Homo sapiens: one gene and its partner. The main gene of each other region encodes a partner of the protein of the gene in region 2 in a complex. Each region holds a gene or a part of one and is shown on either strand. Other genes may lie near its edges.

Evidence for each region.
Region 1: AIM2 (region 2) and MEFV share a complex: the UniProt entries of both Homo sapiens proteins name them as parts of the AIM2 PANoptosome complex.

The regions. Positions count from the first base shown.
Region 1 is NC_000016.10:3,249,946-3,253,863, forward strand, and holds part of MEFV (pyrin), read right to left. Parts: intron 1-3,918. UniProt on the Homo sapiens protein: Involved in the regulation of innate immunity and the inflammatory response in response to IFNG/IFN-gamma.
Region 2 is NC_000001.11:159,062,864-159,066,781, forward strand, and holds part of AIM2 (interferon-inducible protein AIM2), read right to left. Parts: intron 3,467-3,918; coding exon 3,047-3,466; intron 812-3,046; coding exon 623-811; intron 1-622. UniProt on the Homo sapiens protein: Sensor component of the AIM2 inflammasome, which mediates inflammasome activation in response to the presence of double-stranded DNA (dsDNA) in the cytosol, leading to subsequent pyroptosis.

The DNA of each region.
Region 1 (3,918 bases), on a different chromosome or scaffold from region 2:
AGCAAACAGGCCACTGGGCCTGAGAGCTAAGGGCCAGACCTCAGACATTCCTGAGCCTTGGAATTCTTGGGCATTTATCCTAAAGAAAGACCCATGGCCTTGTGCTGTTCCTCCTGCACAGACATAGATCTAGCAGGTGATGCCAAGGAAAGAGACATTCTGACCAGTGTTCCTTTGCCACTTGAACCCATCCCTGGCTGCCCATAACGTGAGTGGAGGCTTCCAGGGGATGGTGACTTGTGTACCTCGCTCCTAGCTGGATCCCAGCCCCTAGCAGAGTACCTGGCAAATGCAAGCATTTGGAAAATGAGTATTGAATGAAGGAATAAATAGACCACTGCTCACATATGAGTTCAATAACCATTAAATGAAAGCAAAGAAGGGGCTGGGTGGTGGCTCATGCCTATAATCCCAGTGCTTTGGGAGGCCAAGGTGGGAGGACTGCTTAAGCTCAGGAGTTTGAGACCAGCCTGGGCAACATGGCAAGAGCCCACCTCTACAAAAAATTAAAAAATTAGCCAGGTGTGGTGGTGCACACCTCTAATCCCAGCTACTTGGGAGGCTGAGACAGGAGGATTGCTTGAACCTAGGAGGTTGATGCTGCACCACTGCACTCCAGCCTGGGCAACAGAGTAAGATGCCATCTTAAAAGAAAAAGCAAAGAAGGGGGGCATTATAGGGCTAAAGACTGGAACTCATCATGAAGACCTAACAGTTATGAATAGCTCTACTCCAAGACTCTAATTGCAACTTCATAAGCAGACATGCCACGAGATACAAGAAGAAATAGAAACACAAGGCCGAGCGCAGTGGCTCACGCCTGTAATCCCAGCACTTTGGGAGGCCGAGGCGGGTGGGTCATGAGGTCAGGAGTTCAAGACCAGCCTGGCCAAGATGGTGAAACCCTGTCTCTACTAAAAATACAAAAATTAGCCGGACGTGGTGGTGGGCACCTGTAATCCCAGCTACTCGGGAGGCTGAGGCAGGAGAATTGCTTGAACCCGGGAGGCGGAGTTTGCAGTGAGCTGAAGTTGCGCCACTGCACTCCAGTCTGGGTGACCAAGAGAGACTCCATCTCAAAAAAAAAAAAAAAAAAAAAAAGAAATAGAAACACACTCAATCCTTTAGCCCCTGCTACCTCCTCCCACCTCACAGTGTCCCAGAAATTCACAGCACATCTGTAAATGAGACTGCTAGTAGTCACCAGAAATTATTCTCCCTCCTTCTCTCGTGATAGAATTAATTGTCCACGTTTCCCTGTTTCCCTGCCTCCCATTGCCCCCCAAATGCCCTGCATTTCTCAGCCTCCTTTGCAGTTAGGTGTGGCTATTTGACAATAATATGACCAAAGGGATGTAAATGGAGGTGTCACAAGCAGCTTCTAGAAACTTCTAGAGCTTTCCCGAGGGATACTATTCCCCTCTGTTCCTCCATCTTGCTGCCTGGCATGAGGACGTCACCTTCTGAGAGCAGAAGCTTGAGGACAAACTTGGTGGGACAGAGCAACAGCAGGACCCCAGGGTCCTGGCCCACGGATCTGCCTGGGACCGCCTGTGTATCATTTATGTGAAGGAGGCACAAACTTCTTTTCTGTTGAGGTTACTGTTATTTGGGTGTTTCTATTATTCACAACCAAACATAATTTTAATGACTACCTCAGCAGTAGATAGTTAGGACTTTAGCCAATAGGCTTTTCTTTCTGCTGAGAGAAAGGCAAATGGTAGAATCTCAACCCCATGATGATGCATTGCTGTGAGGTTATTGTGAGAGGGAGTATTTTTAACCAGTCTTCCCCAGATTTTCTACCTGGTGTCCATAAACCCCTTGGATTCTAAAGATGGTCTTCAGAGTGTCCAAGAACTACCTGAAATTTGATGTGACATTTGTGAAGCTGTGCATATATGCATTTTTCAGGGTCTAAGCCTGCATCAGATTAACGAAGCGGCCCTAGAAGACACCCAGGAATCCCAATGATATAAATACAGTGGGGACCTGGTGCAGTGGTGCACACCTGTAATCCCAGCAGTTTCGGAGGCAAAGATGGGAGGATTGTTTGAGATCAGGAGTTCGAGACCAACCTGGGCAACATAGCAAGACCCCATATCTAAAAAAAAAAAAAAATTAAAAAAAATACAGTAGGGATAAAAGAAAATTAGGGGGGAAATACTTCAGTACTTTTCAGGTCACTATTCCTAAGGATGCTAGGTTTTCCAGATCCCAGGGTCCTTTCTCACTGGAAGACCCAGGGACTTCTGGATTTGAAGACTCATGCAGCATACCACATCCTTTCCCCTCCCAGGTCTCAGGGGTCCCTGGACTCCCAATTCTTTTTTTTTTTTTTTTTTGAGACAGAGTTTTGCTCTTGTCGCCCAGGCTAGAGTGCAGTGGCATGATCTTGGCTCACTGCAACCTCTGCCTCCTCGGTTCAAGCAATTCTCCTGCCTCGAAGCCTTCTGAGTAGCTGGGATTATGGACACCCGCCACCACGCCCAGCAAATTTAGTATTTTTAGTAGAGATGGCGTTTCACCATGTTGGCAGGCTGGTCTCGAACTCCTCACCTCAGGTGATCCGCCCCCATTGGCCTCCCAAAGTGCTGGGATTACAGGTATGAGCCACCGCACCCGGCCTGGACCCCCAATTCTATTTCTCCTCCTTGAGTGCTGTGATTTCTCCTCTCCAGCCAACAATGCATTGGAAAGTGTGTTCCATAGGCTGGGTGTAGTGACTCACACCTGAAATCCTAGCACTTTTAGAGGCTAAGGCGGGGGATCGCTTGAGCCCAAGAGTTCAAAACCAGCCTGGGCAACATAGACAGTCCTCGTAACTACAAAAAATACAAAAAAAAAAAAAAAAATTAACCAGGTGTGGTGGTGAGCACCTATAGTCTCAGCTACTTGGAAGGCTGAGGTGGGAGGATCGCTTGAGCCTAGGAGGTTGAGGCTGCAGTAAACTGTGCTCACACTACTGCACTCCAGCATGGGAGACAGACTGAGACTCTGTCTCAAAAAAAAAAAAAAAAAAAAAAAAGGAAAGTGTGTTTCTGAATGCTGCCCCCACCACGAGCATGGAATTGTCACCTGGATAGCCTCGGTACCCTCTAAACTGGTGGCATTTTTCTTTTACAGTTTTTTTTTAGTCTCTTTACCTATAGGGACAGCTGCTTAAAAAAATCCAGATGGCCTGGAGCCTCCTGATCCCTTGCCAAAAACCAGAGGAAGTTAAGATCAGAGCAAAACCAGTGCAAACTGGAAGAGGTGACTTCCAGTTACCTTAAGATCATTTACACATTGTTATAAGGCTAAAGGTCCCTCCCCTAAAAGAAGATGGCCAGGGTTTTGTGTCCATGCGATGTAGGAAGAAGCATGCTGGGGACAGCGCCTGCACATATGGAACCCTGCCCTGGGCCTGCTTACCTATCTCCCTTCCCCTCCCTGGACTCTAAAATCGCCCTGCCTCCCATCCCTGGCAAGCAGACGCCTGCAGAGGTGAGCTCCCCTTCTCCATTCTTTGGCCACTGATAACACCTGATTGCCTTTTTCAATCGGACATTCTTTCTTTCTTTTTTTTTCCCCCCAAAATGTTTAAGAGACAGGGTCTTGCTCTGTTGCCCAGGCCGGAGTGCAGTGGCACATCCTCAGCTCACTGCAGCCTGGAACTCCCTGGCTCAAGCAATCCTCCTGCCTCAGCTTCCTGAGTGGCTAGAATTACAGGCGTGTGCCACCATACCCAGCTAATTTTTTTTTTAGTTTTGTAGAAGTGGAGTCTGGCTACGTTGCTCAGGCTGGTGTGCAGTGGCATGATCTCAGCTCACTGTAGCCTGGAACTCCGTCTGCTCAAGTGAACCCGAGCAGCTGGGACTACAGGCGCGTGCCACTATTGTATTTTGTAGAGATGGGGTCTCACTGTGTTGCCTAGGC
Region 2 (3,918 bases):
CTTGGATCATACTCCTGAAGTGAATATCTGACCTGAGAAATACACTCCCACTTAGCAAGGTCACATACGCATATTTCTCAAATCTTGGCCTCCACTCTTACAGAGATAGCAGGCAGTGCAACCAACACTGAGACCTGGGGAAGAGCACCAAGTAGTGGCAGGACACGGGTAGGAGGGTGTGGTGGAAGGTCAAGAGTAGGGGTTTACATGGACTTAACTGCACTGGACTATGGTAGGTGCAGACGTGGTGGGACTGGCTAGGGAAATGTGTCCTCAAAGTATTTATTGTCTGTCTACTTTCAAAGACATTAGTCAGAATGACTTTTCCGACTCTGGGCAAGCTTTCTGCTTTAGACTTGTAGTATAAATAAGGAGCTCTTTTTTGGGCTCTGTGGGCACAACAATATGCGCCTCTGCCTTGAAAAGCCCATGTTCTCTTAACTGTGTATCTAGAATACATGTTTCCTAAGAGGGAGGTTCCTCAGTTCTGTGAGATGAACGTGTACTAAATATCAATGTCTTCCACTCTATATCCTGTTCAATGGCTCCAGTCCGGCTTTCTGATAGAAAACAAAAAATATCACCCCCTTGGAGAGTTGACTTTGTTCCATGCAGTTCCCACCTTTATGGTGCTATGAACTCCAGATGTCAGCTGTAGTTTTTCTCCATTTTTTGACAGTGTGAAGAATGTAAGTCGAACCTTATCTCCTTCCTTACATTTCATTGTGTCCTCGTTTCTAACCCCCAGTACTTCCATTTTCCCAGTGTTGTCACTTAGGTCAAATAATATGTTTTTCTTCTTTTCTGTTACCTATAAAAGAAAATCAACACCCAGCCTCTGATAATCGGATTAATGAATGCCGCATCAGTCACACATCAGACATGCCAGAAGAAGGCTCTAAAAAGAAATCAGTTGATTCTTGAACAACACAGATTTTACCTGTGCAGGTCCATTTATATGGGAATTTTCCTCTGTCTCTGCCACCCCAAGATGGCAAGACCAACCCTCCTCTTCCTCCTCAGTCTACTTAACATCAAGACAATGAGGATGAAGAACTTTATGATGATCTACTTCCACTTAATGAATAGTTAGTATATTTTCTTTTTTATAATTTTATTAATAACATTTTTCTCTAGCTTACTTTTTAAGAATATAGTATATAATATGTATAACACAAAAATATGTGTTAAGTGACTGCTTATGTTGTCCGTAAGTCTTCTGATCAAGAGTAGGCTATTAAGCAGTTAAGTTTTTGGGGAGTCAAAAATTATATGCAGATTATCAACTGCTCAGGGTCAGAAGCCCTAATCCCTACATTGTTCAAGGGACAACTTGAAAAAATGTTTCTGCTTTGAAACTAGCAGGTATATATCTAATAGATGTTAGCAAGTTCACACAGAGGAGGCAGACGTGTCTTACTTAGAACATGTTGTCTCCTATGCCTATCTTTCCAGTCCTAAATTCCCTTCCTTTAGGAGGAGGCCAGGGTGGCCCATAGAAGCAACAACTGCTGGATAGAGAAGATGGAGCTTCTCCAGGGCCAGCAGCCAGATTAGTCAAGGGAAAAAAGAAGACCCTGGGTTGGAAGAGAGCTATTTATTCTATTTGTTTATTTTTTGAAATGGAGTTTCGCTCTTTCACCCAGGCTGGAGTGCGATGGCGCAATCTTGGCTCACTGCAACCTCCAACGCCCTGGGTTCAAGCGATTCTCTTGCCTCAGCCTCCCGAGTAGCTGGGATTATAGGTGTCCGCCAATACACCCGGCTAATTTTTGTATTTTTACTAGAGACAGGTTTTGCCATGTTGGCCAGGATGATCTGGAACTCCTCAACTCAGGTGATCCATGCGCCTTGGCCTCCCAAAGTGCTAGGATTACAGGCATGAGCTGCCGCGCCCAGCCTGAAGAGAGCTATTTAAAACAAGTCCAGGAGAGACATGAGGTAATGATGCAAGACCCAGCCAAGAGTCTAGTAAGTAATCAAAGACAAGAAACAATTCACAATCAAGTCTAGATCCAAAGGGAACAGGAGGTTGGTCAGTTATTTAGGAGATTGATCGTATTTTAGGTTTAATTTTATGGACTAAATCAGTATATATGAGTGGATAGCTGGCCAGATTGAAAGCTGAAAACTGGGATAAAGAACATGACTTTCCTATCCAAGGTCATTTTACACTTGAGTTTTCCAGGAGGACTGGAGAGTCTTCCTATCAATTCCTTCTGAAACTAACCCAGGGCAGCAGAGGTTATTCTGAGGCTCTGAATGCAGGGGCAGCAGGTTCTCTCTCTATGGTTCTTTAGGTCCTGCCCTAGACCAGAAAAAGTCATCCCACAAGGCTAGTTCCCTGAGGCTCAGAATCATAATAAATACTTTATTATTTCTCACTTCTAATAAGTATCCTGGAGGAGCGCCTCTGCCCCGCGGCCCTGTCTGGGAAGTGAGGAGCGCCTCTGCCCGGCCGCCGTGCAACCTTCCAAGTGTGAAGTGACAGCCTTGTGTGTGATCTTTTCTGTCTTCCCCCAGTTTGCATTTTTGACATTAAAGTTTACTTTTTAATTAAAAAAAAAGTCTCCTCAGGCTAACTCTTTCTTCTGTTTTCTTCATTTAATCACAGTTCTTTAATCCTGCCTTGCGTATTGGTTTTTCAGGTCATTAATCTGGTTTATTACTCAACTACACTTACTTTGCATTCACAACAATAGTCACTTAAAATAAAGATAATCACAACTATAGTCACTTAAAATAAAGATAATATGTACAAAGTACAAAAATAATGCAGAAATAAAAATTATGTGAATGAACTAATTCCTTTTTCAGAGGCTACTGGGGTAAGTTGAAATAGGATCGTGACATTTTTGACAATAAAAACAATTTTTGAGTTTTTGTATGAATTTTGGCATGTTTACTCTGCAGCTCTTTAGAACTTTGTATTTTTTTATTTTGTCTATATAGAAAGACATTAAAACCATTTCCAAAGTTTCTTTAAGATCAGATGGGAAATACGTTATTCTTACTAATCAATATGAAATTAGATATGAAAACTTACCTTCTGGACTACAAACAAACCATTCACAATTGTTCCAAGGGGCTGAGTTTGAAGCGTGTTGATCTTCGGGGTTTCACCAGCTTTTCTGATAATGTTCAGCGGGACATTAACCTTTTGGTCAGATTCAGCATCTAACACACGTGAGGCGCTATTTACCTCTAAGAAACCACTGTGCCGATAATATCTTGCTATTATAATTATTCTCTTTGGAATGAATTTATCTTTCAGCAGTGTATTAAAAACTTTTACAAAGAAGAATTCCTTTTCTGTAGCCACTGTAGCATGAAACATCTCCTGCTTGCCTTCTTGGGTCTCAAACGTGAAGGGCTTCTTTGCTTTCAGTACCATAACTGGCAAACAGCGCTTCTGAAACCCTTCTCTGATAGATTCCTGCTGGGCCACCATCTGTTTCTGTTCAGGCTGAAGACAAGAGAAGAAAGATATCAGCTGTGAGTCAAAAAGGTACTATTGAAAGGACCTTACTTCACCTACAGTGCTAAACCTCAGAAAGCCAGCAGAAGATAGGTGGAATCAAGGGAAGAGATACAGAGGGGATACGAAGAGAGTTGAGGCCTAGAACGATCCAGATAGAACAGAGAGTGCAGAAGGAAGATTTCGACTCCTGTATTCAGATAAGACGGTGTAACACGTTTTGGAGGTAGGATCCCTGAAACCAAATCCTTGCTTTGCCATGTACTATATATAAAGACTTCATCAGATTTCTGAAATACTGCTAAGCCTCGGGGTAAATCTGACAAATCTGATTCCATCTTCTATCAATTCCATTCGGGCATGTGTCCTTGTTTCTCTATCCAATACTGTCCTAAATGTTCATTTTACTCTGGTATAAAAGTGAGGGAGCTCAGTGACCA